2 separate regions of the Homo sapiens genome follow, and region 1 is linked to region 2. A link means that fine-mapping ties the variant in region 2 to the expression of a gene that starts in the linked region. Tissue or cell type: nucleus accumbens. Region 2 holds a variant in brackets; the other region holds the start of a gene. All regions are shown on one strand. Distances are from middle to middle.

The links. PIP is the estimated chance that this variant, and not a neighbour inherited with it, causes the effect.
Region 1: SLC25A12 starts here. The variant in region 2 is fine-mapped to the expression of SLC25A12 in nucleus accumbens (GTEx, PIP 0.95).

The regions. Positions count from the first base shown.
Region 1 is chr2:171,892,634-171,895,317 of GRCh38, forward strand. It overlaps SLC25A12 (solute carrier family 25 member 12), which reads right to left and starts at 1,611. Exons shown (of 18, transcript NM_003705.5): 1 at 1,570-1,611; 2 at 572-625. The coding sequence starts at 1,581. RefSeq lists enhancers at 1,257-1,823, 1,824-2,390 and a silencer at 1,534-1,853.
Region 2 is chr2:172,078,148-172,080,831 of GRCh38, forward strand. It overlaps METAP1D (methionyl aminopeptidase type 1D, mitochondrial), which reads left to right. Exons shown (of 10, transcript NM_199227.3): 8 at 1,068-1,115; 9 at 1,981-2,059; 10 at 2,181-2,684. The coding sequence ends at 2,259. Among named protein-coding and RNA genes, the nearest start is that of DLX1, 6.0 kb to the right of the region's middle. RefSeq lists an enhancer at 2,185-2,684. The variant T/A (reference allele first, on the strand shown) is at 1,143.

The DNA.
Region 1 (2,684 bases), 190 kb before region 2:
TTTTAAGTCTACAGCCAAGTCACTGATTCTAAAAGCTTAGAAGTTAAGGTAGACCATTGCAAGAATCTTAAGAGGTAACATTTTGGGGTAAAATCCCCAAGGCTTAAGGATACAATGTAAGTAAGACACACAAATTAAGAATAGCTATAATATTCTTATCTCTGTAACAAATTACATGGAGGATAGCTCATAAGTAGGAAAACTTTGTAAACATGCAACTTTCAAGGAAGAGAATTTTAGTCATCATACCTATTAACTATACAAGAATGCCAATACATTTTGAAATTTTATCTTGGTCTCTGTGCTTAAGCTGGAAATTTTTTTTCAAAATATATATCTTAAGTCATGTAAAAAAAAAAGCAGTAACTTGAGGAAAACCTTTTATCGACCCTTAATTAAAAGAAGGCCTTAAATCAAACCTTATTAAGAGAAGTATAAGCTATATTGTCCGGTCATGTTTGAAAGAATACATGAAAACTGAACATTCCTCAAAGTTAAGGCATGAATAGGACTAAGGACATGTACGTTTTTTGTTTTTGCAATGAAAGGCACACTATGCAAGCCAATTTACCTGTAGAAATATGTTTCTTAACTCATGAGGATCCCCTCGCTTAGTTGTCTGCACCTGTAAGCAAAAAAGAAAAAAAAGCCAGTTAATGCTTCACTAGAGACCACACAATCTCTTCAGATTAGAGGTCACATGGCTAACAATCAATGCTCCTATCTTTTATCATTTAGTTTAAAACAAACTAAAAGCCCTAATTGCTGATAAGAACTGTCAAACTGGATAACTGTGACTAGAGGGCAGAAAAACAGGTGCGAATAGCCTAAGATACAGCAAAGCTATCGGACAGTGCTTCCTCTGGACTGGAAAGGGAAGGCAATGAGGATCTTTTACTTTATTCCACATCTACTAGCAACACAGTAGTAACCACCCACCTTCAAATCAAGAAGCTAACAAGAGTAGATCAACAGGAAAGTTAAATCACCCAAATTAATCACTTGGCCTAGCAGCCTTTCTCCATAAAAAGCAAACCCAACATGTAATTATCTCCGCGTCCCTCTCCCCATCCAACCTAAAATATGAGAGCTGCCACAAATACAAATACTTTCCATACCCTGCAATCTGCAACGCAAAAGCCAACCACTGCCCTCGGCCTTATTGAGGCCCCAAATTACTCAATACTTACTCCCTCCCCCACCGCAATTCACTGATACCCTAGGTATCCCCAGCTTTACTTGCCACTTCCTCCCACACCCTTTCTGATGCCCTCCAACTCCGGACTCACAATCCCATGCACCTAGGACAGGACATTACTCTTCCTTCACTGACCCGTGTTACCGTACAAGCCCCTTCAACTCACAATCCCTCCTCCTTCCCCTCCCCCAGCCGGGCATCCCCTCCTCCGGTCCAAGCCCCGCACAGCTCTCCCCGCAGCAAGCCGGAGCCCCAGGACAAGCTATCTAAGACCTAGACAATGAATAAAATGGGAAGCAGTGGGGGGCTGCAGGCAGGGCGCTCGGAATGTCTCTTATGCAATAAAAGCAGCAGCAGAGAGTTGGAGTCACCTTGACCGCCATGCTGTGCTCGGAAGCCGGGGACGAGCGAGTGAGCGAGCAGGGCCGAGCTGTCAGGGCGCGCGCGCGCCGTCTTCCCGGCCGCGCCCGCCCTCCCTCTCGCCGGCGCCGCGCGCGTCCCTATGCAAATGAACTCGGGGCGCGCCGCGTGCGGAAAGGGGCCCGGCGTCCCGGCCAGAAAGGCAGCTGGTCCAGGGCCGGCCGGCCGGGCGGAGGAGGGGGACGCGCCTCCCACGGGGAAAACAAGCGCGACCCATGGGATCCCGACGCGCCGCGTGGTTGCCACAGCTAGGTCGCCGCCAGGAAAGCCCCAGGTTTCCTAAGGCCTCTTAGTGGGTGTGGCTTTGGGCACCGACCAGCCAAAGTCGTTTTCCCCGAGGCTTAAAGGAACATTTGGGGCCTATACTGAGCAAGGTTCCGACGGATCAAAGAGCACTTCCCATTAATAACAATGAATTAATGACAACTGATGGCAAATACCGACAAAACAAGATTGGGAACCACTCACTCTAGGGAAAACCTACGTAAACATAATTTGAGAAATATGCTCCTAAATTGGCATGGGACGAATACGCTGAATTTATTTTTGCTTTGCGTGCTATTACAACGGTTTATTAGTAGACTCGCTCCACTTTCCTAATCACCCAAATCCTGTGTGCAATGAGAAAAAAAACTCTATGTGTCTTTGACAGGGCTGGCAATGAATCGCTTGCCCATACATGAACAGAAAGTAATTCTCCATTCGATTTCTAGCCCTACCTAAGAAGTAGAAGAAGCAGTAACTCTATCTTGAACCAAAACAATGTTTCTAAACCCGTCTTGCCAATATCACTGTATTAGGCTACATATTGATTCAAACATGTATGGGCATCCATTATATGCCTGACATGGTCCTGCTTGTAAAAAACGCAAATAACCTATAGCCCCCACCCTCTAGGGGCTTACAGATGGTCAATGCTTCTCCACAACCCCAATCACATGTGTATTGTGTGTATGTGTGTCTGTGTGTGTGTGTGTTGAGACTGAGTCTCGCTCTGTCGCCCAGGCTGGAGTGCAGTGGCACCATCTTGACTCACTGCAACGTCCACCTCCCAGGTTCAAGAGAT
Region 2 (2,684 bases):
TGGCTGGAAGGCACAAGGGATATTTGTGTAGAAAAAGTTACTGAAAACAAAACGCCACTGCATCAGTGTCCCAGCAGCATGCACATATGACTGTTTCTGTTTTTCTTTTTCTACCCCCTTTTCTAGCTGCTGACTGTTGTGGTTAAACTTCATTACATCCTACACAGCGTTGACAGCTGATGTATTTAGCAGCATGTACTCCTTCGTGATTTCTAGATTATGCCCACCCTTGTCTTCCTTCCCCAGAATCTCTTGTTTTTCACTGCCTGGGTGTGCACCCTATAGTGAGAAGACAGGGGTGGGCCCAGAGGGGTGGGAGGATTTGGATTGAGGTAGGAGGCAGCTCAGTGGAGCACCCTCAAGGCAGGTCCACACCTGGACGGGGATCAAAGGAAAGTTGGTCCTGGGGCCTTGACCTGTGCCCCTATGGACTTGATTGGTCCATAGAAGGACTACTCTTTCGGACCCATGCCCTCGAGGATCGCTGGACACCCAGCAGGTCCAAACCCTCTTTGGACCAAAGAGCCCCCACCTAGGCAGCTCAAGAGGTTCAGGTGAGAGTGCAGAAACGGCTTGTCAGCCTTGTGCCCTACCTGGTGCCAATGTCTGGAGTGAAGCTATTTGAAGTCAGGCCCCTGCTCCCCACAACCTGCACCAAAGGAGGCTTCCCTCCTTTGCATCCTTCCCCAGGACTTCTTTGAGTGAGGGGTGTGGGCAAGGCCCAGGACCCAGTAGTAGGCTGGGAGACCTAGTAGCCTGGGGGACAGGGAGAGGGGGCGAGGAAGCCTGACGTGTCTGAAACAACCAGGCTGCCCCTGCCAGGCCTTGGAAAACTCTTCTGGGGGAGTCTTGACCCAGAGCACAGATAATGCAAAGACTCAGGCCCAGTAGCCCCGTGTTTAACTCCTGGTCACTATCCAGGACTCCAGAAATCTCCACCCTTCCTTCTCTAAAAGAAGAGAAATAAAACGACCAAGTTTTTTAAAGGGGCCTGACCCCTGTAATCTGTTTTTTTTTTCTGTCCTCCCCATTTCCTATTCTCACCCCCCATGTTTTTTGTTTTGCAGCAAACGACAGTGATCTACCCATGGAGGAGGGCATGGCATTCACTATAGGTAAATTGAGCTCCTCTTCCGAGTGAG[T/A]GCGTAGCTCCTGGTGGAAGCTTTTGCCACTGGCCTAGGCCCGGCAGTCCGGTGAAGGACCAATAAAGCCAATCAGTGTAATGAAATAATTCGGATGCACTGGAAATCTGATTAAATAATATCCTCAAGCCCCATCTTCCTAAATCAGATACTTACCGACACATTTAGGAGAAGGCAGCCATCCAACCTCTAATTCTGTTACCAGCATAATGTGGTGTTGGGTTTTTTGTTTTGTTTTGTTTTTTCATTAACACCCAGTAACTAGACACGATTATGTCCCTTGCTCCCTGTCAGCAAGTGGCATGTGCTCTCTGGTGGCCCGTTCCTGGCTGATCCTGTGATTGGTATCACCACCAAATTCCAGTCACCTAGGGCCGTAAAGACATCCTGTTTCTGACTGTGGGACTTAATGGAGAAGCAATTAGAGTGAAATAAGAAAATTGTTATTTGCTGATGAATGAACATCTCGAGCATGTTTTTAAAATTTAAATATTTTTTTAAAAATTGGTATTTATAAGAGGGACTGGTGTTTGGGTGGTTATTATCCACGGGGTCCTAATTAAAGCTTGATTAAAATGCCCTTCTTTCTCTAAAAAATTACGAACTAGGCAACTTCATACATTTTGAATGGCGCAGTGTTTCCTCTTCCAACTGTTTAGTTTGTAGTATACTATGTAAGCAACATCAATTATCAACCCTTGCAAGATGACAACATGAGCCTGTGGGGGAAGCACTTGAGGGGAGGGAGGAGAAACTTCTCTTTTTTAATAATCAGCCGGAAACAATGTTTAACAAGAATCTGATGAGGTCACTGCAGTAAATATTTTTCCTCTTACAGAGCCAATCATCACGGAGGGATCCCCTGAATTTAAAGTCCTGGAGGATGCATGGACTGTGGTCTCCCTAGACAATCAAAGGTGTTTGCTTTCTGCTCTGTTGCTTTTAAATTGTATGGGAAAGGAAGATTGGTCCGACGGCGCGCTTGTGGCCCGGCCGGAGCTTGCGTGCGCGTTCTGACGGCTGGGTGCTGTGTTACAGGTCGGCGCAGTTCGAGCACACGGTTCTGATCACGTCGAGGGGCGCGCAGATCCTGACCAAACTACCCCATGAGGCCTGAGGAGCCGCCCGAAGGTCGCGGTGACCTGGTGCCTTTTTAAATAAATTGCTGAAATTTGGCTGGAGAACTTTTAGAAGAAACAGGGAAATGACCGGTGGTGCGGTAACCTGCGTGGCTCCTGATAGCGTTTGGAAGAACGCGGGGGAGACTGAAGAGCAACTGGGAACTCGGATCTGAAGCCCTGCTGGGGTCGCGCGGCTTTGGAAAAACAAATCCTGGCCCTGGACTCGGTTTCCCAGCGCGGTCAACGCATCTGGAGGGGACTGGAGGAAACCCCCTTGTTGGAAGAGATTCCAAGAGAAGCACGGTTTTCTCTTTCCCTTGCCCTGACTGTTGGAGTAAAAAACCTCTTAAATCCATTGTATCAGAGGTCCTTACCTCTCTGACAGTTACAGTGATCTTTGTATCTGAACTTTGCACGTCTG